Homo sapiens: one gene and its partners. The protein of the gene in region 4 purifies or fractionates together with the protein of the main gene of each other region. This does not show direct contact. Each region holds a gene or a part of one and is shown on either strand. Other genes may lie near its edges. The genes, in order: ACADM, ABCE1, ALDH3A2, USP50, SLC25A13, MTHFD1L and IPO5.

Region 1 (3,500 bases), on a different chromosome or scaffold from region 4:
TAAGTGTAGAATAAGGAAATTGACTATAAAGGGAGAACAAGGTAACTTTTTGGGGTTCTAAAGTACTCTGTATCTTGAGCATGGTGGTGGTTACACACATATACATTTGTCAGAGCTATTAGAAATGTATACATAAAAATGGTGACTTTTCTACATGTAAATTATACCTCAGTAAACCTAATTTTAACAGAGTCAAAGGAAAACAAAATCAATTTTTATTCAGTAGATTATTTTACTAGCTCTATTAAGATTAAAGGTCTCAAATCAGATTGTGTTTACTAAATGTTTTTTCTGACATGGTAAAATAGATAGCTTTCAAACATATAATGAGATTTGTCTTTGTTGATAAGATGTACTTGTAGACCTTTAGACTAGTGTTGGTTTCAAAATTTGTGAAACATTGTTTTAGATTATGGTTGGCAAATTTTTTTGTAAAGATCCAAATTATAAATATTTCAGGCTTTGCAGGCCATATCTCTGTCACAACTACTCAGTTCTGCCATTGTAGCAAGAAAGTAACTGTAGATGATATATGAACAAATAGGCGTGACTGTATTCCAATCAGGCTTTCTTTGCAAAACAGGCATTGCAGACTACAGTTTGTTGATCCCTGTTTTAGGTAATTGCAGAAAGTCATGAAACAGTGATTAAAGCAAAAATTGATGCTGGCTCAAAAAAAATTCCTTAAAATATATCAATTTTCTTATTAGGAATTAAACATGGGCCAGCGATGTTCAGATACTAGAGGAATTGTCTTCGAAGATGTGAAAGTGCCTAAAGAAAATGTTTTAATTGGTGACGGAGCTGGTTTCAAAGTTGCAATGGGAGCTTTTGATAAAACCAGACCTGTAGTAAGTAATATGGGTTCATAATCTTTATAGGATCTTTTATTTATTACATTAAATAAGTATTTTTACTTTAAAATTGTATGTTCAGTGTGTTTCTCTTTTTAATATCTGCTTATTTTATTAAGGATATAGGAAAAATACTGTTACTTTTCTTTCTTTTTTTTTTTTTTTTTTTGAGACAGAGTCTCACTCTGTCACCAGGATGGAGTGCAGTGGTGCAATCTCAGCTCATTGCAACCTTCACGTCCTGGGTTCAAGAGATTCTCCTGCCTTAGCCTCATGAGTAGCTGGGACTACAGGTGCACACCACTCTGCCCAGCTAATTTTTGTATTTTTAGTAGAGATGGGGTTTCATGATGTTGGCCAGGATGGTCTCGATCTCTTGACCTCGTGATCTGCCTACCTCGGCCTCCCAAAGTGCTGGGATTACAGGCGTGAGCCACCGCGCCTGACCATATTGTTACTTTTCTTAATTTTTTAAATAATTCTTCAAGTTTTCTTACTATACATTATAGAAATTATTTTAGCAACTGCAAAATTACTGTAGTTGGTGCTAGATTTAGAGAGGCAGTCCACCCTAAATATGATCATCCTGTTAATATGTACTCATTTTCTGTTTTTACTCATTAAGAACATTTCCCCTAGTAAGATTTCTCTTGTTAAACAAAAGCAATGACTTTTTTCTAGAGTATGATACTATGCCTAACAAATGCCTCTTACTACCTTTAATTAACAAATAATATAAACTTACGTGCCTATTCCCTGTTCCCCACCAGTTTCTTGTTGCTGTACATCACCTTCTCTTTGTACACTCCCTAACATAGACACTTAGGCAGATATTGTGTGTTTTAAAGATAACATGAACTTTTGCTTTATAATATCTTAAAATACTAGGTAGCTGCTGGTGCTGTTGGATTAGCACAAAGAGCTTTGGATGAAGCTACCAAGTATGCCCTGGAAAGGAAAACTTTCGGAAAGCTACTTGTAGAGGTAATTTTAATACTGCTTGCTTTGTTCAAATGTAAAGACACTCATTTTCATTTAATATTTAGAAATGATTTTTAAACCACAAACTAATCAATTTCTACTTTGATAGCAAGAAGATAATGTGGTTTTATCAAGATGAGTTTCAAAGACATTTCTTTTTAGAGTGTGCCACTATTGGTTACTTCTGAACCTGACACTGTGCTATGCATTTTTTTTTTTTTTTGAGATGGAGTCTCGCTCTGTTGCTCAGGCTAGAGTGCAGTGGCACAATCTCGGTTCACCACAGTCTCCGCCTCCCGAGTTCGAGTAATTCTCCTGCCTCAGCCTCCCAAGTAGTGGGAACTACAGGTGCGCACCACTATGCCTGGCTAATTTTTGTATTTTTAGTAGAGATGGGGTTTCACTATGTTGGCCAGGCTGGTCTCGATCTGCCCGCCTCAGCCTCCCATAGTGCTGGGATTACAGGCATGAGCCACTGGGCCCGGCCTTGTGCTATGCATTTTAAATATATTTTCTAGCCGGGCGCGGTGGATCACGCCTGTAATCCCAGCACTTTGGGAGGCTGAGGCGGGCGGATCATGAGGTCAGGAGATCAAGACCATCCTGGCTAACACGGTGAAACCCCGTCTCTACTAAAAATACAAAAATTAGCCGAGCATGGTGGTGGGCGCCTGTAGTCCCAGCTACTCGGGAGGCTGAGGCAGGAGGATGGCGTGAACCCAGGAGGCAGAGCTTGCAGTGAGCCAAGATCACGCCACTGCACTCCAGCCTGGGCGACAGAGTGAGACTCCGTCTCAAAAAAGAAAATATATATATATTTTCTGATTCTCTCAGTAACCCTTTTTTGGGTGGTGTTATCTCTTTTAAGGATCAAGAAACTGAAGCTCAGAGGTATTAAATGATTTGTCCAAGGCCACACAATTTATAAGTCACAGATCCAGGATCCTTGCTTTTTTTTTTTTGCGGGGGGTGGGAGACAAAGTCTTGCTCTGTCGTCCAAGCTGAAGTACAGTGGCATGATCTGGGCTCACTGAAACCCCCACCTCCTGTGTTCAAGTGATTCTCCTGCCTCAGCCTCCCGAGTCGCTGGGACTACAGGCACACACCACCACACCCAGCAAATTTTGATATTTTTAGTAGAGATGGGGTTCCCTTATGTTGGCCAGGCTGGTGTTGAACTCCTGGCCTCAAGTGATCTGCCTGCCTCGGCCTCCCAAAGTGCTAGGATTACAGGCCTGAACCACTGCGCCTGGCCTATGTTATACTCTTAATTCTTGTTACTTCCCATGTCCTCTTGAGTATCAGATAATTTTAGTACTATAAAGAGTCGTGTCTTCCATGAATTTCCAGGGTAATTCTTAACTCTTACCCCTTTAAATATTGATGCTCCCCCATTATCTGTATTCTTTCCTGCAACTCACTATGAGTTGTATAGTGAACCTCCTATTTCTCTTTTTTTTTTTTTTTGAGACAGGGTCTTGGTTGCCCAAATGCGAGTGCAATGGTGCAGTCATGGCTTATTGCAGCCTCTTGGGATCAAGCAATCCTCCCACCTCAGCCTCCTAAATAACTGGAACTATAGGGGCACACTACCATGCCTGCCTAATTTTTTTATTTTTGTAGAGATGAGGTCTCACTATGTTGCCCAGACTGGTCTCAAACACC
Region 2 (3,500 bases), on a different chromosome or scaffold from region 4:
TACAGTTTATAGAAAGCTTTTAAGTATGCTGCACTGATTTCAATATATTAAAGGAACAGAGAAAAACTAAAGTTTCTTAAGCTGTTTTAATAGATCGAGCACATTAAAAACCTTACTGGGTACCATTTACTGAATGGCACAGCCTTTAGACATGACATTTATAACTGGAGTTGTGAAGAATGACTGCCGAGTACCCATATTATTATCAACTTGATTCAAAGACTACCATATGGTATAGAGTAAGGTACTCAATACATATTTGTTAATTGACAAGAATAAAACATTAATAAATTTGTTCTGATGTCATCCCTTAAGACTACTGGCAAGAAAACTAGGTAACTGCAAATTTTTCTTTAAAGTATGCATCTATCTCAAATGTATAAGTAGGTAAGTTACAACCATTTCTTCCCCACATCTTAATATTTATGTACTTTTTATAAATTATAAAAACTCCCAATATCTTTTTATGAAAAGGATTATAATGCAATATAAATTTATTTTTCCAAAAGAGCTTTTAGGTATAAAAAAGATTCCTCCAAGATTAAAAAAAAAAAAAAGAAAGAAAGAAACCAAAAAACCTGTCACCTCTTAGGGAACTACAGGCTACATGAATTTTTCTACTTCTAGGAGATGGTATTTTTTTCCTGAGTAAACAGCCCTTTTAGTGTTCTGAATTGTCAGTTTAAGACAGGTGGAGAGAAAAATAAAAATAAGACACAAGTAAGGAAGCAGTGAAAGGAAAATGGGAAGAAAAAAAGGAAAAAGGTATTGAAGGCAGAGAGTACATTGGTACTTTTTTTTAAGGAGCCACTTAGTGGTACGCTAGTTTCTATTTTTGCTTAAATTACACAGGTAAGGAGGAGACATGGAAGGGAGAGGCCAGGGAATCTCATTTTCTTGGAAGTACAAAGACTAAATGAAAATTTTAATACACTTACTAAACTATCTTATTAGGTTTTTAGATAGCCTTAGTTCCAAAAACATAGTATACATATTACAGATAAATTTAAAACATGAAAACAAGATGAACACTGAAAGCATTTTAAGAGTTTCATTACTGGTATTGGCCTGTCAAAGTTAATTTGAAAATGACAAATACTACAGTAATACTGCAGAAGCCAAAATGCAGAGGACTTTTACTGTAGCCTCCCAACCCCCAACAAAAGTAACATTGCATTTCTACCCATCCCCAGGAGAAAATTCTCCAAAATGAAAAAAATATATTTTGTATAACAACTGATATATATAACCTTATATGCTCAGTGATTAAATTCCAAGGAACTAGAGTTTTGGATGATATCAGACCAATGTAAAACTACTTAATATCAATAATGTAGTTTATAAGCATTAGAGTAGAAGAGAATACAGCATATGTGAAAAAAGTTTTTCAAGTTACCTTCTCTTACACTAAAAGGCATAGTGACAACTCCATAGGCGCTTGGTACACCATATAAACAGCAGATGAAGTCGGAGAGATAGTCTAATACACTTAGATCATGTTCCACCACAATGATATATCTGAAAATCAAACCAGATTTTAGTTAAAACTCTTACATAACTATTTTTAATAGTTGGAAATTTCAGAAAAAGAGATACATCTAATAAAATTTAAGCATAAAGACATAAGAAGCAAAAGCCATAAAACATTTTTAGTAAGGCTCATTATCAATGCTCATATTTAAAAATGTTTTCCTGAACTAAAAGGAAAAAATCAGCCAATTTAAAAGTTTATTGATATATGAATTAAATGCATTCTGCTAATAAGAAACATATTTCGAAATAAGTGTTACAAAGTAATTATAATAGATTTAATTCAGATGTAGCCTAAACTGTTTATTATGCTACTCAATTTATGTATTAAGCCCTGTACCTGTCCTGTCCCATGCTAGCTGTAGTAGGGGATGGACGCATACACAAAGATAGGACAGAATCCTTAACCTGAGACGTTTCCATTTAGCTGGGGAAGACAAGGAATAGGTATGAAATGGTAACAAAAAAAGATTACATGGCAAAATATGCTCCACAGATAATAAAATCAGTGAACATCAGAAAGAAAATAGGTTAGTGGGTACTGGAGCACTTTATGAATGAGAATGGGATATGATGTGAAGCTTAAGTGGCTATATTTGAATGAAGTGATACAGTATTGGCTGGAATAGAAGTTTTAGACGCAAGTAATAGTCATGAAGGTTTTATGTAGCACTTTATTCCCATTTCCATATCGAACACCATTCAACATGTTAAAAAAATGTCCTGCAAACATCTCATATGTCAAATTAATGTATCAGCTTCCTACACAAATAAAAATTCTCCATATTTGTATTAACGAAATTATCATTCCCTCAAAAATGACATTTTATTCCCACTGATATTTTGTTTAAACTGTTAAAGTCTGTGAATTCCTTCTCAACAATGTCTTGTGTTTCAATCTCACCCTTTTTCTTCTTTGCCTAAATTCTAGTTCAGGCCCTCGTATTTCTTTCATATCTCATTTTCTTTAGGTCCCCTGATGTGGGTCTCAATTCCAAATGAAATTAATCACTTAAATTAATTAGACTTAGACTTTCAACACTTTCTAAAACTTTAGTTACTATCTTTCTATTAGCTCATACACAGGAAACACTGAAGAATGCATCTTTTTTCTTAAATAAACCACTTCTCTACTTCTCTGGTGTCTAGGAAGCTATTCTTTTTCTAAGTAGTCTCCTGCCTAGATCTTTACCTGCTGAAATCCCACCTAACCCTTTAAGGTCCATCTCAAATCCAACTTGCTATGGGAATACTTTTCCTAATATGCAAATGAGCTTTCCCCCTCACTCTTGAATACTGGTAACAAGTATTTGGACTGATACTTGGACTTTTATTATTTTTGATTACCCCATAACTTGCTCATAAACATCTTAAGGGAGACTCTTAATACATTTTAGCACCTCTGTGATCTTTAGTCTTACACTGTGTACTAACAGACACCTAAAAAAGTTGTTGAATGACAAAATGAAGAGTATGAACTAATTGGAAATGAGGAAGATAGTAGTAGGTTCTGAAATAGCACTGTCCAGAACTTTCTACAATTATGAAAATGTTCTATCTCTATGTTGTCCCATATAGTGACTACTAGCCATAAGTTGAATGTTGCTAGTTTGATGAAATAAAATTTTAATTTCAATTAAAATTTAAATAAGGATGTTTGTCTAGAGGCTACAGCACAATTCTAGAGTAAGGGAATGAAATGAGAAAACATTTCAGGAGTAATCTGGCAAGAAAAAAAAAGTAACAATGGAAAATTGGAAAATAAGAGCAGGTCTAAGATGAAAAGGGAAAATTAAAAGGAAATGTTTTCTACCACAATGGTGGTAATTATCAATAAAAATGGCAAATCACCCAGGTGAGCTGGTGATACTCATCTTGCATCGGTGTCTTTGTTGGCACTAATCCATTACATGGAATACTTCTCTACTCTTAAAATCCTATGTTTCCTTAAACAGCCAGTGTGAGGGAGC
Region 3 (2,673 bases), on a different chromosome or scaffold from region 4:
ACTGAACTTTTTCTTCTAGTAGTGACATGATATAAATAAGGGCACAAAACAAGTAGGAACAGAGCACAGCAAAGTCATCATGGAAGCAATTCCAGACTCTATGCCACTGTTTGCCCAAGTGTGGTCCATGGTTAACAGGTATTAAGGTAAACGGCTCCGCGGTCAAGGAAGTCTGGGAGCTGCACACACTAGCACTTCAGAGGTTCCAAATGACCTGGGTCCTTTAGTTTGCTGATGTGCTTTACAAGCCAGTGGTATACAGGACTGGTGGCAGGACCATTTTTTTGTGTAAAATCTTGCGGGATTAGTGTTCTACAAATATGCTTACAGAAACACTTGTTCTAGATCAGCAACTGGGGGTAGGAGGATGCCACTGGAAAAACCTATTTACTATAGCTACTAACCACCACCCCCAACACACACAGCAGAACATAAAGTTTGAGAAAATCTTCTCAGCTAAGAATTTTAAAATGAGAAAAAAAAAGTTGACAAATACCATCTATGATAAAGACATAAAATGATTTATAGTTGGGGAGAATTTATGATCAAAGGATTGTCTCCAATAGGGTATATCTGAGGTTCCATACCAGGAGCGTCATTAAAATTGATGCCAATTTTATGAAATATGTTCATTTTGAAGCAGATGTGTATTAGTAGACAAGCCAATAATTTAAACATACTCAATGAAAATTCCATAGTGCAATTTTATCTAAGGTATTTTATGATTACTCTCTTAGAGCCACAGTTTTAAGCAGCTTTTTCCTAAACTAGGCTCGTTATTAATTTTCAACACTTCATACTATGATGAAGACATCACATACTTTAGACAGCCTTAATAGAACAAATTATTCAACAAAGTTGATTATACGTTCTATAAAGTAAATCACATTCTCTCATTGAGTGAGCTGAGTCTTTTTGAGTGTGGGGACAGAGTCCCTGCAGTCAGGAGCTCCAAGGCATAGAACTGCCTGCCCTGCTCTGTCCAGCAGGTAATGCTGCATTCCACAGGCCTCTTCTTCAGCCTTGCCCACTCAGCAGAGTACCTCAGGTTGTGACCATGAACGACTGATGAGAGTAACTTCTGACTTGCTCAGGGGATCCTCTTGCCATCAATTCCCTTCAGTATGACCAACCGCAGTGGCTTACTCGCTTCTTGTCCAGACCATCCACCATCTGTCTGCCCCATGATGCTCTCAAACCCCAAAGTCCTAATATCCCAGGCCTCTTTGTCTGTGAGAGGAAATGGTTCCCTCACTTTAAGTTCTGTAGGCTAATCAGAAAGGGATCTCTCTATAGTTTCAAAAAGTGAAATTTTACTTGCACTACAGAAATAAGAAACTTACAGATTTGTCCTTGAAGACCTACTAACCTGCAACTTTAGGGTCCTGAAAGAGGATTAGTATGTTTATAAGTACTTTTATTACAGTATTTTTTATTTGTTTCGGAGACAGGGTCTTGCTCTGTTGCCCAAGCTGAAGTGCAGTGGTGCAATCACAGCCTGCTGCAGCCTTGGCCTCGCAGGCTCAATCAATCCTCCTGCTTCAGCCTCCTAAGCAGCTGGGAACACAGGCTCATGCCACCACATCTAGCTAATTTTTATTTTTTGATAGAGATGAGGTCTCACTGTGTTGTCCAGGCTGGTCTCAAATTCCTGGACTCAAGCAATCCTCCCACCTCGGCCTCCCAAAGTGCTGGGATTACAGGCATGAGCCACCACGCCCGGCCACAGTATTTTTTAAATGCCAGTTAGGTTTTATAAGATGTAGAATTCTATAACTCCAACACAAGAATGACAGGTGATGCTTGCATGACTTTGGCAACTAACTTCCAGGAAGCCCTAGGATTTACAAGATGCTTTGAGTGACATTAGTCACAAGAGATTGTTGCAACTAAACAGAACACAGGATGATAAAGAATGAATGAGGAAGAATGAAGACCACTGGTGAGATGGCACTTCTGACCAGGGGCCTACTCCTGGAGGTCAAGTCCTTGAGTCCCATTGGAGGAGGAGTAACCCCTCCCTTCCCCACATAGAGTTTTAGTGCCTGAAACCTCACAGGGAACCAAGAAGATCTAATCTCACCTCTCTGGACTACAGAGGACTGCCGGTAGCCCTGGGAAGTACCAAGCTCTTGAAAGCTTCACACAGTGATGGTGGCAGCAGAGGCAGGAAGTGAGCAGTGCCATTAACTGGAGTGAAGGATTCAGTGAGGTTCTGAGACTCCCTTACAACCCCGCAGTTTGTATTTAGTCTAATACATTCTCCTCCCCTAGCTCAAAGTTCCAAGATTTAGATAAGCACAATTTAAGACAGGTTCCCTGAATACCCTATTAGGGAATGTTGGGACGTAGTTGAAATGGCAACTTTTATTAATGATGAATGGCAATGACTTTTAAGTTTGATCACAGAGTGTTTGCATATTTTCTTACTATTTTTGGTATGATTTAAAAATTATTGGTTCATTAACCATTTAAAAGAGGAATAATTCAGTAGAGGCACTAGGAGGTTGAACAGGATCATTCTTCAGTAATATTCTGCCTGGAGAGAGGAAAAAAGGATTCAGTTTACTCAGCTGCTTTAAAAACCTACCCACAACCAGCCTTGCAACACAAGCTCAGCACTGGGACTCAGACACCTCCTGTCTGAAGAGACTCTACATGCATTGTACAAAA
Region 4 (3,500 bases):
CTTGTTTGCTCCTTATTGCTGGCTGTCTTCTACTGCCACCCACCCCATGCCCACATCCCCAGTTACAGATTAACTTTTGGCGTTGTGGTGAAGAAAATTTGAGAGGTAAACCAAGGCACTAGATTCCATTCTCTCTTTCCAAAACATTTCACAACTTTAGTCCAAAATATAAGAGCTCAAGTCTAAGAGTCTAGAATGTTTTATATCTAGTTCCCAATCTGGGCCTTACAGACCTCTGGGGTAAGGGAGGGTCATAAACTTTTTGCAAGAAATTATAAATTTCTTTTATGCACAAATCTACCTCAATAGACTCAATAAACCCCACTATATTTCCAATTTTACAGTCAGGCTATTTCGTTGAGTACATTTAAAAATATGATTGAATTCCTAGGAACTTTTGGCCAGTATGTCCCTATAAAAAAAAATACTGTCATCATGGACTTCCTCTTTCTTTTATTTATTTATTTACTTATTTGAGACAGAGACTCACTCTGTCACCCAGGCTGGGGTGCAGTAGTGCGATCTTGGCTCACAACAACCTCCGCCTCCCAGGTTCAAGCGATTCTTATGGCTCAGTCTCCCAAATAGCTGGGATTACAGGTGCCCGCCACCATGTCCAACTAATTTTTGTATTTTTAGTAGAGACAGGGTTTCACCATGTTGGCCAGGCTGGTCTTGAGCTCCTGACCTCAGGTGATCCGCCTGCCTTGGCTTTCAAAAGTGCTCGGATTACAGGCATGAGCCACCGCACTCAGTCTATTTTTTTTTAAATTAAAGTTATAAAGCCGTCTCTCATACTAAACAAATGTAGGAAACAGCCCCGAGAAAATCCGGGGCTGAGAGTATAGCGAGACAAAGTGTCCAGGAATACTGCATTCCTACCCGAAGGGAGCATTCATATTTGGATGGAATGGGGAGTGAGAAGACAGTGAAGACTTCGTTCTTGTAGGTGCATTTCTCACACTTTAAACATACGATGCTATAATTGAGCTGCTCTTCAAACAGCTGGGTGATGATGGATGTCTCAGTGGTAATCCACTTCCTGCAGCATCTCTGAGTAGATCCTTTCTCATATGATCTTCTCCGGGAGTAGTGGTACTGAATCAAGGAGCAAATTTCACCCAAATTAATTATTGGTTATTTAAAAAAGACTGTGGCAACATGGTGAGATCCCATCTCTACAAAAAAAACAAAAAATTAGCTAGGCATGGTGGCACACATCTGTGGTGCCAGCTACTTGGGAGGTTGAGGTTGGAGGATCAGTTGAGCCTAGGAGTTTGAGACTGCAGTGAGCCGTGTTAGCACTACTGCACTCCAGCCTGGGTGACAGAGTGAGACCATGTTTCCAAAAAAAAAGGAAAAGTTTTCAATAAAATGACTGATTTTTTTTTCTATCAGAATGAGACATTGCTACCAGAAACCACTTAGTTTTGGATTCAGACAATAGAGTAAGATATCCTTGAAAGTATATATATCATGTGTGATTTCTGATAATTCAGATATTTTCCCGTTAGATGAAACAGAGGAATGATGACAGTCTAACTCTGGTAAAACATATACCCATGGCCCCATAAGCTACCAGCCTTGGGAGCTAGTTTTTTCTGGAAGGGGGTAAGTAAGCTAAATTAGCATTAGTTCACTCAAGCAGATCTAAAGGTAAAATATTAAGAAATCCAATCTTTCCTGTCTCCAGTCCCTTCAGGTTACATTCTGCAGCCTTTACTCCTTTAACTTCTAGAAAACACTTTTTTAAAAGAGCAAATCTTGGCCAGGCATGGTGGCTAACATCTGTAATCGTCGTGCTTTGGGAGGCTGAGGCGGGAGGAGTTTGAGATCAGATTGGGAAACATAACAAAATCCTGTCTCTACAAGGTTAATTAAAAAAAAAAAAAAAAGATAAGAGAGCAAATCTTAAATTTCTAAGGCAGCCTGGTGGAACTAGCCTTGTGGCCTGGTTTGGATCCAGCTCATACTCAGCAACAGCATTTCTGGGGCACACCCTGAATTTTCAGTGATTTAAGAGCCTCAGTGGAATATACATTTTGAAGATGTGTTAGCTCCACAGCTGGCTCTAATTTGGGGCTGTGCTCAGCATTCCATTTTTGCTTGCTCCTTTCATCACACTCTGCTGCCAAAGTCTTCCACCCTGACAGTAACTTAATTCCCCTAATTCCTACTTTGATCTTGGGAAACAGAATGCTGTTTGTTTCAGATTGGCTGTAGAAGAGGACATAAGTGATTTTTACTGCCCACTCACCTCTTTTCTTAAAAAAGTGCTGCCATGAATATGTTTTTGTTTTTTTTTTTCCTTTTCATTTTTTTTTTTTTTTTTTTTTCTTGGAGACGGAGTCTTGCTCTGTCGTCCAGGCTGGAGTGCAGTGGCATGATCTCGGCTCACTGCAACCTCCGCCTCCTGAGTTTAAGCGATTCTTGTGCCTCAGCCACCCGAGTAGCTGGGACTGCAGGCTCCTGCCACCACGCCTGGCTGATTTTTGTATTTTTAGTAGAGACGGGGTTTCACCGTGTTAGCCAGGATGGTCTTGAACTCCTGACCTCAAGTGATCCACCCACCTCAGCCTCCTAAAGTGCTAGGATTACAGACGCGAACCACAGCGCCTGGCCATGAGTACTTTTTTATTACTCTAAATGAAAAATGGAACTGAGATCTGCCAATGAGAACAATTAATAGCTATAGTTTGCAACCTTTATGCTAACCATTCCCTGGGTATTAGAGGTGCAGTGAGGTAATGTTAGCAGAAGGATGTTGCATAAAGTCAAGGACACATTTTCAGAGAATGTGGGTCTCAGACCAAGGCTAAGGGCAGTGAGTTTTGTAAATAAAGGCAAAACCTCTAGAGTAACTGATGATTTCATGTTTAATGAAATGTATGTCCTAATTCGGTGATGAACTCAGGTTAGGTATGTTTGGTATGAGGATGAAACTTTGTAGTGCGTAGATCTGTTGCTTAATCTAATATCAAGCTTAATATTTTCATGGATTTGTAGGTCCCAAGAAAATTTAAGCTATAAAGTTCTATATGTTATTTCTCATGAGGAATATATTTTGCACTTTTAAAAACTAGTCCATTCAGCCTCTATTTACAAAGAAAAGTAGATTAGTGTTTCCAAAGCCTAGCTGACCACTGGAAATGCCAAGTAAGCTTTCCCAAAAGACATTCTAATTAATTACCCTTGGAGTATTTGCCTTAAAATCTGTGTTGTAAAATCTTCCCAGATGATTCTGATGACAAGTAAGTTTGGTAAATACAGCTACACATTCAAATACTAACTTGGATGTTCTCCATGGGACACCTAGCACAGTGCTTGGCACAAAGTAGACAATATTAATTGAACAAGTAAAAGAATGAAAAATGGAAGCTGCTGATAAAGGTTCAGGACTATCCTATTTCAAGGTCATTAACTCTACTTACCTTTTTTAGAGCTTCATGAAGTTCATTTAGGACACAAATCAAGAATTCCTGAGCATCTTGTTGCATCTT
Region 5 (3,500 bases), on a different chromosome or scaffold from region 4:
TGCATAGCAAGATAAATTAAAGAGGGCAATGCAGCACACTGGTTATGTGCTTGGGCTCTGGAGCCAGGCTGCCTGTGTTGAAATCATAGCTCTCCTATTTACAAGCCATGTGATCTTGGGCAAGTTATGTAATCTCTCTGTACCTCAAAGAACTTAACTACTCTGTACAAATGAGTTTCTCGATGTATATTATGAAGGTGAGAGCACTTACATGTCATAGGATTGTTATGAAGATTGCATTAGTAGATATAAAGTGCTTGGAACAGTGTCCGGCTTTTACAAGTGTTATATAAACATATGCTAATATTATTATTATTATTTGCATAACCTTTTTGAGCCTTAGGTTTCTTTATCTGACAAATGAGGTTATCAACACGTTCCCTGCTACCTTGTAGATGATTATAAAGATCAAATAATGAAGCTTGGGTCTTTATATTATCTGGTTATATTAATCCCTGAAGACTTTGAGCTTCTTGAAAACAAATCTAGTAGCTTACCTGTTTTTGGAATCCCAGCACAGTGTAGGCACTGACAAACAGTCGTCGTCACTTATGCCCTTGAATGCACTTTTTAAAGCTGCTAAGTACTGTACCCATGAACACGGTAGTGCTATTATCATGGCAACAAGAGCCAATCTTAGAAAAGTCCTTTGGCAGTCTGGACAGAATGGAGAGGAAGGTGTAGGGATGAGATCAAAAGCAAGGGGATCAGTGGGAGCTACAGCAATGGTACAGCTACAAAATAAAGAGGCCCTGAATTTGAACAGAGAAGATAGGACATACATGCTCCATGGCCGTAGAAGGGTTTCACTGATCCACCTCTTTTGCCACATCCAATTCAGGCTGATGGTGTCTCTCCTATCTGCCCATAACAGGTACTTAATTGAACTAACTAGAAACTTTATCAGGAAAGTGAAGCTGCAGGATGAAGTCAGGAATGACCAAAAAGATGGATTCAGTTATAAGAACTGGTGAGTTCTAGGTCAGCAGAGTTTGAAATATCTTTGAGACAGACAAGTTGAGTCTTCCAGCTCAAACTAAACAGCTAAAAGTGCAGGGCTAGAGCTTGAGACAGCCACCCAGGCTGAGGAGTGTTAAGGAGCCAATACCCATTAAGGGGGCAGGTAGTGCGGCAGGAACTGGAGGGAGGAGACAATCTCAGGCACAGCCTTGGGGGACACTAACCTTCCAGGTGTCCAGGCAGAATGAAGAGAAGCCCACAAGGCACAGCACTATTCACAGTAGCAAAGACAGGAAACCAACCTAGGTGCCCATCAATGGTGAATTGCATAAAGAAAATGTGGTATATATCCACCGTGGAATACCTTGCAGATATAAAAAGAACAAAATCATGTCCTTTGCAACAACATGGATGCAGCTGGAGGCTATGATCCTAAGTGAATTAATGCAGGAACAGAAAACCAAATATCACATGTTCTCACTTATAAGTGGGAGCTAAACAATGGGTACTCATGGACATAAAGATGGCAACAATAGACACTGGGGACTACTAGAGGGAGGAGGGAGGGGAACAAGGGTTGAAAAACTAATTATTGGGTACTATGCTCAGTACCTGGGTGATGGGGTCAACTGTACCCCAAGCCTCAGCATCATGCAATATATCCAGGTAACAAATCTGTACATGTACCTCCGGAATCTAAAATAAAAGTTGAAATTATTTTTTAAAATGTACATTTAAAAAAAAAGAAAGTAAGACCCTTTGTTAGATTCAGAAAAAGTGAAAGATTTCTAGATTTTTGCTAAAGTAATGCTTCTCAAAAGGTGCAGCATTAGTGCTGGACCTACATATACCTGACCTGTACAGGGAAGGGAAAAACACTACATTTTTGGCCAAAATTCCTCATTGGTAAACTAGTACATTCTGTTTTGAAGATTAGGGTAAAGTGTACTATCATTCTATATGCATATGTCATGCTGCTAAACACTAAAATAAAAATATATCTTTGCTGGGAAGAAAGAAGACGAAAGAAGAAAGAAGAAGGAAGGAGAAGGAGGAGGAAGAAGGAGGAAGGAAGGAGGAGAAAGGATGAAGGACGAAGAAGAAGGAAGAAGAAGAAGAAGCCTGCAAAGGAGAATAAAGGGGTAATATGAGATGCTAGAGGCCAATAATGAGAGGGGACATCATGAAAGCAGATGGCGAGAAAGAAAGGGTAGGACACAGGGTCATGTGAGGCCAGAAATGAGGACAAGCCAACAGGTTTAGAACTGAGGTTACTGGTGACTTTTAGGAGAAGGACATTTAATTTAGTTCATTTCACCCAATTAGAGGGTCTGTCTGGTTAAACAGGCCATGAAAATAGAGTTTGCTCAGTAGCTGTTAAATACTTTGCTAAAGGAATTGTATCACTACACAAAGGCATATCCCCCTCCTTACCTCCAAGCAGAACCAACACATGTCTCAGCGTCACACATTCCTCTGTTGCAAGGTCCACCCTAAGGCAAACCCACAGAGTCTTATGAGGAAATCTGTAGGTGTTTATGAGGCAGCAAATGCCAACCAGAGAGGAGGAAGCGCTCAGCAGGAATGCCATAATAGATAATCCTCACACATAGTGGAGAACAAAGGGAGGAATGGTTCCCTCTAAGAATTCATCAAAAGCAGAGACTGGTCATGGGACTAAAGGTCTAAGAGACCAAAGCACAGAGGAGTCAGAGCTCCTCGGACAATCTTCTAAAAGAACTCAATATCCAAAAAAGACCTGCTCCCTGACTTTTTTACGCTACATATCACCTTTCAACTCTCCCCACACCTTTCCAACCCTCTATTTGCTGTGAAGCCATATGACCTAAGCCAGGGAACACTGGCACCACATGGCCCTGGATGAGGTTAGCCCAGGAGAGGGCTCTGAGACCAGGTTTGCTCTTTGTAATGCTTCCCTCCTCCAGCACCTTCTCTGATCACAAAAAACCACTGAGACTCTGCAGGAGACAAATGGAGCTTTCAGTCAAGTTTGGGATTAAAACCTCTATTCCAGGATTATCACAAAACTGTATAAACTTGATGCCTAAGCACCCTGGAGACACCAGGCAGGACTAAGACAAAGCTGTCAAGAAAGAAGAGAAATTTGGAGAAACCCCTACATACCCCTCCTTTGAACTGACACACCAGGGACTTTAACTTAATCTCACTGCATTCCATTCTTACTCCAAGAAGGAGCCAGCAGGTCTCTTGAAGCAATGTGCACCAAAATAACAGTGGTTGTCAAGCTTTCAAAAATCCTGAGGCTCAGGCCACACCCAAGTCCAATTCAATCATGATCTCTGGAGGGAGACCCAGGCATCAGCAGTTTTTTATACCAGTCCAGAAGACTTCAGTATGTAGGGAATCACTGGCCTAGAGCAGTGCCAAAAGCAAAGGCATTCATGGGAATTTGGACCAATAACAAATGTTTCTGGGACTCCATTTCTAGGACTCTCCTGGTAAAAGGGGACAGGACTGAGGAAGGAAAGAGTAAAGATCATTGTGTTAACATAAATTCC
Region 6 (3,500 bases), on a different chromosome or scaffold from region 4:
GATCTTACCTGAACATCATACAGGAACTGGAATCGGCTTCTTTTACTCGCAGCCTCTCTCACAGCCCGAGCCAAGTCCACCGATCCTTTTCCACCAACGGACCAGTGATAGCAGGGGACTGCATCAAAGGCACCAGCCCGCTTTGCAAGCTCACACACCAAGTCAATCTCAGCGCGGGTGTCGGTCCTAGTGAAGAAAATGTTTGTGGTTTTGCATCTGTATCCATTTAGCTATGTTTTCAAAGAAAGACTCACCATTTATACAGAACTTCGCTCCCTAACACTGAATACATTTTAAACATCAAAAGTGGTCACATCGTGTTTAAATAAATCAGACTTAAAGCATGGAAAAAAAAAGTCCTCTCTAAAGTGACTCAAATATTTCAAGTCGTTAAGGGTGTTATCAAGAAAATTCCATAACATATCCCTTTGATCATTCACAGTTTGTTTCAGACAAAAATGCTGGGTAGAATTAAAAAAAAAAAAAAAAAAAAAAGCCAAGGAGATAGTAACTCACTATATATAAATTTCACTTCCTTAATAACATTGTGAGAACACATTTGCTAAAATGAAACCAAACCAAATAAACAAACAGAAAGAACTGGGTATTTCTGTATACTTTTAGATGAAGCACAGAAAGACCAAATACCCCAAGACACAAATATCGTTCACAGGGTGGCCTAGTGATAATGCCCACATTTAAAGGAGGAGGCTGGACTTACTTGAAGACATTCAGAGCCACCACAACGGGAACCCCAAAGAGCTGAGTGATCTGAATTTGCTTCTGGAGGTTACAGCAGCCGTCTGCCACCAGCTGGATGTTCTGTAAAAAAGAAAAAAGCAAAACCCAGACCCCTGTGTATTGTCTCCCACCAAACCTGCCAAGCTAAACTGCCAGCACCTCTCTGGCAGGATTTGCTACATCTTTTTTCACTTTTTCCTCCAAGAAAGATGGCTGCAAGAATAAAGAGGTTCGTCTTCAAAATAATTTCTAAAATGATTCTGGATCCAATGGCATATGGGTGGGTCTGAAGCCTGGCAGCTCACCCTGCTGAGGACAGGCTGCAGGGTCTATGCAATGCGCCCATGCTCTGCAGGTTGAGGCCTGACAGGCACAAGGCCCCAGGTGGGTGAGGAGCTCTGACCAGGTATTCCTGGCTCAGATCCCTGGCGCCACCTGTAGGAGCTAAGAGGTACTGCTGCCAGCAAATCAAAGTCTATTTACAGAAAAGAGTAAGCCACTCCTGTAAATCATAAAGCCAACTGTATATAGACCTTCCATGACAAAAGAATACAGAAGTGTAAGCTTCATATTTGTTTCTGACCTGGAGACCTTGAGTTCCTGCTCTGATGGCTACCCTGGGAGTACACAATAGTAGACAAAGCCTATATCCATCTTTTCTTGATATTTAAGAGTTAACTGAATGAATTTTATCCTTTCATCCCATCCATTTCCTCTCGGATTCTTAGAACGGCACTTTTCTTTTCTTTTTTTTGAGACAGAGTCTCACTCTGTCGTCCAGGCTGGAGTACAGTGGTGCGATCGCAGCTCACTGCAACCTCTGCCTCCCAGGTTCAAGCGATTCTCATGCTGGGACTACAGGCGTGAGCCACCATGCCCAGCTAATTTTTGTATTTTTAGTAGAGATGAGGTTTTGCCATGTTGGCCATGGGTTTTGCCTGGCTGGTCTTGAACTCCTGGCCTCATGTGATCCGGTCGCCTTGGCCTCCCAAAGTGCTGAAATTACAGGTGTGAGTCACTGCGCCCGGACAGAACAGCACTTTTCTAAGAGGCCACTGAAGGAGGGCTCATTCACTGAAAGCCAACGAGTCACTGGATTTAAGAGATTCTTCACATAAGCATCTAAACAGCTCCTCTTACCTCCTCTGTATATTCTTTCTTAAGAGGAACACCAGCCGTTACCTGAAATAAGGAGAGAAAACATGAAGAATAATCCTATAAAAATGCTTACACAACCGATCTGAAAGAAAGAACAACATAATCACATTCAATTTTTAGAAATGTACCTCTATGTTTTGTGCTTTTAAAACAGTAGCTGGCAGCACTGGCTAAACCTAAACTCCTGCGGGAAGCTTTTAGAAAACACTGATCCCTGGGCTCCACCCAGACCAATGAAAGCAGAAGTTCTGGGAGGGGAACCTGGGATCAGTAATGTTTAAAATCTCCCTGGATGATTCTAATTTGAGCCAATGGAACAGTATGAAACTTCTCAAACATTGGTTCAAATTAGAACATAAAACTAATAATATGTTTAATACTTGATTTATACAGAGTACATCACCATTCGAAATCATTTTACGGTAATTGCCATAAAGTTCTGTTGTCCAGGCTGGAGGGCAGTGGCACAATCACAGCTCACTGCGGTCTCAAACTCCTGGGCTCAAGTGATCCTCCTGCCTCAGCCTCCCCAGTAGCTAGGAATACAGGTGTGTACCACCACACCCAGATAATTTTTTATTATTTTGTAGAGACGAGGTCTTGCTATCTTCCCCAGGCTGGTCTCGAACTCTTGGGCTCAAGCAGTCCTCCCACCTCGGCCTCTCAAAGTGCTGGCATTACAGGGTGAAACACTGTGCCTGGCCTTGTGGTTAATCTTATGTGTCAACTTTGCTGGGGCCATAGGGTGTCCAGTATTTGTTCAAACATTATTTTGCGTGTTTCTGTGAGGGTGTCTATGATGAAATTGATATGGAAATCAGCAGCCTCTGAGTAGGCAAGTTGTCCTACATAATGTGGGTGGGTCTCAACTGACCAGTCAAAGGCCTTTTTGAGTACAACAAAAAGACTGGCCTCCCCTGAGAGCAGGAGAATTCTCCAGCAGACTGCTGCCTTCAGACTGCATTAGCACCACTGCCTCTCCTGGGTCTTCAGCTTGCCAGCCCACAGTGCAGATTTTGGACTTGCCAGCTTCTGTAATCATGTGACCCAATTCCTTACAATAAATATCTTTCTCTATATATACACACATCCTTATTGGTTCTATGTGTGAAGAATGCTGATTCATACAATGGTTAGTTTAAAGATCTAATTGTGAAAGAATCTGTGGATCCCAAAGCATAGCACAATATTAGTTATTGGATTGCACTGGGAATGGCCGAGCACTCTGGGGGACAGGATGTGAGTTTAAAATGACTGAGGGCAAATTTAAAATGGGCAAATTCAAGGGCCACAAGATTTTCCACTGTACAAATTATGGAAAAAAAACAAGCTGAATAAACATAAGAGGCAGCCATGGTTATTTGTGTAATGATCAAAAGGAAGTCGATCCCAGCGCAGTATTTGTAGCAAAAAAGAAAAAAGAAAACAGAAGTAGAAATGAATAATCATGGTTCAAAAATACAGAGCTATTCAATATGAAGGAAGGACACCGAGATGAGCACTATGGAATAGAGGATTAAGAGGATGAAAGTTCATTTATCTTGCCATTATTGAAAACACTCCCTGCATATAGACCATGCCAGACACTTGGACCATACCAA
Region 7 (3,500 bases), on a different chromosome or scaffold from region 4:
CCTACTGCTGAGATGCAGTTCTCTGTAGCATTGACATTTTCTTTGGTCTTAGAATCCGCAGACTGAATAACTCTTACCAGCAGGGGAAGTGCTTCTAAAATAAGCATTTGAAAGAAGTTCAGCTAAAACCTCACATTTTCATGCAAATGAATATATGTATTTTTGTATTTGGTTCAGATATTGATTATGGTAAAGAAATGTTAAAGTGTATGGGAAGTGTTGTCTTCTTGGCTATGTCATTACAGAATGGCAACAGAGGGGGGACTGCCCCAGCATGGACAGGAGCACTAGCCCTCTACTAACTTAGAGACCCAGAGAGATTAGTGGCCTCCAGATTTACAGTACTCATCACATCACCCGAGGGTCCTTAAACTTTAAAAGCTGCCTAACTATATTCCCCAGTAAGTTTTAAAAGTCCTATTCTGCCAGGTGTGGTGGCTCACGCCTGTAATCTCAGCACTTTGGGAGGCTGAGGTGGGCCGATCACGAGGTCAGGAGATCGAGACCATCCTGGCTAACATGGTGAAACCCCATCTCTACTAAAAATAGAAAAAATTAGCCAGGCGTGGTGGCATGCGCCTGTAGTCCCAGCTACTCAGGAGGCTGAAGCAGAATTGCTCGAACCCGGGAGGCGGAGGTTGCAGTGAGCCGAGATCATGCCACTGCACTCCAGCCTGGGCCTCAATTAAAGAAAAAAAAAAAAGTCCTATTCTAAGGCTGTTGTATATTGCCAAAACGCAAAGAGAAATGCACCCTGGAAGGCTGGGGGCAGGGGATGTCTTTGATTCTATTTCTATGAGAATAAATCATCTTTTTATCATCTAAAATCCTAAATGCTACAGATGAGATGTCTGAAAACAGACTACAGCAGAAATAGGCAAATAATGTTTGGGAGTGTGGTAAAGAGAGTAAAGTAGGGATTCACAGGATGTCTGGAATGAAATGCACGTAACGGAATAAGCAAACGTACCTGTACAAAAAGGGCGATAATTATCTCCACCGTACTGTGCCATGACTCCCAGGCCATATGCAGCTGCTTGCCTGACTTCTGGGCTGTTGTCACATACATATTGGAGCATTGGTCTTAAGAAATATTCTGCGTATTTAAATGAGGCTGGACTACAGTGTTCTATGACATCATCAAAGATGCATAATCCCCATTGTCTGTCTGGCCATGGTCTATGTGGACACTACAAAAGAAATTCTCTTTTAAGCTTCAAATACTGGTGTACACAAAGAATGTAAAGAAATATTCACTATAGACTATCTGCTTACATTGATATTCCTCATACAGGCAAAAGAAAAAAGAAAACATAGTAACAACCACTTCTTGTGACCAACGATATTCAATCAAATACACAGATTTAATAAAATTTAGGTTTCAAAGACTTGTATGATTTGTTACAGAACTCTACAATCTGACACTATCACACAGAAGAACTGACAGTGGAAGCATTGTATATAAATTTACTTTGTAAAAAAGACAATGGTAATGCTACATTAAAAAAATACAATAATAATAAAAGCTGCAAAGATCTTAACTTATAGCATTTATTCAACAGGCTAAGTCATGTGTGCCCGAATCTTTTAAAAAATGTACTGCACTACTTAATACAATAAAATGCAAAATTGAAAGCCAAAAAGAAAAATTCCAAACATCTGATGATAGCTGCTAATTTATAATATATTTTTTAAAAACCGAATACACAGCCAGGCGAGGTGGCTCACGCCTGTAATCCCAGCACTTTAGGAGGCCAAAGTGGGCGGATCACAAGGTCAGGAGGTTGAGACCAGTCTGGCCGATATGGTGAAACCCCATCTCTACTAAAAACCCAACAAAAAAACACAACTAAAAATACAAAAAAACAAAACAAACAAAAAAACTGAATACACATAGGCCATTATATGATGTGTTGATGTAGGTCCATAACAGAAACACATGTATCTACTACTGTGATGGGGGGTGTTAATGGTGCTGAGGCCATGCACGCACAGGGGCAGAGGCACATGGGAAATCTCTGTACCTCCTGTTCAATTTGGTTGTGAATCTAAAACTGCTTTAAAATAGGAAGCGTAGGCCTGGGCGCAGTGGCTCATGCCTGTAATCCCAGCACTTTGGGAGGCCGAGGCGGGTGGATCACTAGGTCAGGAGTTGGAGACCAGCCTGGTCAACATGGTGAAACCCCATCTCTACTAAAATACAAAAAATTCGTCGGGTGTGGTGGCGTGCGTCTGAATTGCTTGAACCCAGAAGGCGGAGGTTGCAGTGAGCCGAGATTGCACCACTGCACTCCAGCCTGGGCGACAGAGCAAGACTCCATCTTGAGAAAAACAAACAAACAAACAAACAAAAAGAAGTCTATAAAACATTTTAAAAAAATCAAATATAAGGGTGAGAGAAGGTAAAAAAAAAATACATATATATATATATATGCCCATTATCCATAATCCATGATTGCTGGTAGTACATAACAAAGATAATTGAATTATCTATGGTCCACTAAAAAAGAAGTAACCATTCTGTTTCCTTTTATTAATTTAGGAGGGCACAGATAATCTGAAATAATAAAAAAAATCACTTATATATCTTTCAGATGTGTTAGAACTGAATTGGCCTATGGAAAACCAAGTTAGGAATCTTCAAGCATATAATGAATGAGAAAATATCCAGGGTAATGCAGTCAACTTGATAAAATCAAAGATGTACAATGGAAACAATCATTTCTGAGACCCATTTTAACTTCAAGCATTAGATTTTACGTTGCAGTGAAAAGAATTCCAGGTAAACTACGCAAAACAACTATTAAGAGAGGTAACACTTACAATGAGGTTGACAATTAATGGAAGCAGCTGTTCAAACCATGGTAACACCTTTTCTTTGTAGCTACTGAATATTGAGTGTAAAATATCTGACACTTTGGTCAGAATATAAACATCATTATCATCCTAAAAAAAACATACACATAAACACTCATATGGATTAAAAAGTATATTTTCTATTATCAATAGTAACATTTATAAAAACCTTAAAAAATGCAGAAAATCAATTTCTCATTCCTGTTTTAAGGGTAAATCAAGAGTCTAGAGACCGGAGTAACCCTCAAGTGTGGGTTATCATGTCTCTTACTAATCAAAGGCCAGTCTTACCTCGAAAGACAAAGGTGTGTGGCAAGAACTGTATTTATTGCAAAGATTTTCCTTGGAACATACTTAAAATAGATGGGTTGAAAAATTATCTCTAATTTCTACATTCTGAAACAAAGGTGTTTTCACTATTTTTACTTTGTTTTCAGCAGAATAATCCTCATTTCGGGGTGGATGGTGGGGAGAATGGGGTCTCGCTGTTAGTGGCAATTTGGGCCTACAAGCATGTGGGCACCTTCAGGAAGCTGGTACTACCTACACGGTAGCACTGGCCCACCAAGTGGCCACATATGAGATGCTGGACTCTAAACACACAATGAAGTATGCTTGACAGTCCTAGGTGGTTTGATGAGAGA

The links.
Region 1: the proteins of USP50 (region 4) and ACADM purify together in Homo sapiens (affinity purification with mass spectrometry; one large-scale study listed by BioGRID and IntAct). This does not show direct contact.
Region 2: the proteins of USP50 (region 4) and ABCE1 purify together in Homo sapiens (affinity purification with mass spectrometry; one large-scale study listed by BioGRID and IntAct). This does not show direct contact.
Region 3: the proteins of USP50 (region 4) and ALDH3A2 purify together in Homo sapiens (affinity purification with mass spectrometry; one large-scale study listed by BioGRID and IntAct). This does not show direct contact.
Region 5: the proteins of USP50 (region 4) and SLC25A13 purify together in Homo sapiens (affinity purification with mass spectrometry; one large-scale study listed by BioGRID and IntAct). This does not show direct contact.
Region 6: the proteins of USP50 (region 4) and MTHFD1L purify together in Homo sapiens (affinity purification with mass spectrometry; one large-scale study listed by BioGRID and IntAct). This does not show direct contact.
Region 7: the proteins of USP50 (region 4) and IPO5 purify together in Homo sapiens (affinity purification with mass spectrometry; one large-scale study listed by BioGRID and IntAct). This does not show direct contact.

The regions. Positions count from the first base shown.
Region 1 is NC_000001.11:75,748,709-75,752,208, forward strand, and holds part of ACADM (medium-chain specific acyl-CoA dehydrogenase, mitochondrial isoform a precursor), read left to right. Parts: intron 1-710; coding exon 711-851; intron 852-1,742; coding exon 1,743-1,838; intron 1,839-3,500. UniProt on the Homo sapiens protein: Medium-chain specific acyl-CoA dehydrogenase is one of the acyl-CoA dehydrogenases that catalyze the first step of mitochondrial fatty acid beta-oxidation, an aerobic process breaking down fatty acids into acetyl-CoA and allowing the production of energy from fats.
Region 2 is NC_000004.12:145,115,311-145,118,810, reverse strand, and holds part of ABCE1 (ATP-binding cassette sub-family E member 1), read right to left. Parts: intron 1,519-3,500; coding exon 1,397-1,518; intron 1-1,396. UniProt on the Homo sapiens protein: Nucleoside-triphosphatase (NTPase) involved in ribosome recycling by mediating ribosome disassembly. Able to hydrolyze ATP, GTP, UTP and CTP. Splits ribosomes into free 60S subunits and tRNA- and mRNA-bound 40S subunits.
Region 3 is NC_000017.11:19,675,424-19,678,096, reverse strand, and holds the end of ALDH3A2 (aldehyde dehydrogenase family 3 member A2), read right to left. Parts: intron 2,540-2,673; coding exon 2,525-2,539; coding exon of another isoform or gene 2,472-2,524; 3' UTR 501-2,471; downstream 1-500.
Region 4 is NC_000015.10:50,540,167-50,543,666, forward strand, and holds part of USP50 (ubiquitin carboxyl-terminal hydrolase 50), read right to left. Parts: coding exon 3,432-3,500; intron 1,099-3,431; coding exon 883-1,098; intron 1-882. UniProt on the Homo sapiens protein: Deubiquitinating enzyme that removes conjugated ubiquitin from specific proteins to regulate different cellular processes. Regulates the inflammasome signaling pathway by deubiquitinating 'Lys-63'-linked polyubiquitination of the PYCARD/ASC adapter protein.
Region 5 is NC_000007.14:96,312,099-96,315,598, forward strand, and holds part of SLC25A13 (electrogenic aspartate/glutamate antiporter SLC25A13, mitochondrial), read right to left. Parts: intron 1-3,500. UniProt on the Homo sapiens protein: Mitochondrial electrogenic aspartate/glutamate antiporter that favors efflux of aspartate and entry of glutamate and proton within the mitochondria as part of the malate-aspartate shuttle.
Region 6 is NC_000006.12:151,012,202-151,015,701, reverse strand, and holds part of MTHFD1L (monofunctional C1-tetrahydrofolate synthase, mitochondrial isoform 2 precursor), read right to left. Parts: intron 1,924-3,500; coding exon 1,882-1,923; intron 823-1,881; coding exon 722-822; intron 187-721; coding exon 9-186; intron 1-8. UniProt on the Homo sapiens protein: May provide the missing metabolic reaction required to link the mitochondria and the cytoplasm in the mammalian model of one-carbon folate metabolism complementing thus the enzymatic activities of MTHFD2.
Region 7 is NC_000013.11:98,016,175-98,019,674, reverse strand, and holds part of IPO5 (importin-5), read right to left. Parts: intron 2,947-3,500; coding exon 2,824-2,946; intron 1,191-2,823; coding exon 971-1,190; intron 95-970; coding exon 1-94. UniProt on the Homo sapiens protein: Functions in nuclear protein import as nuclear transport receptor. Serves as receptor for nuclear localization signals (NLS) in cargo substrates.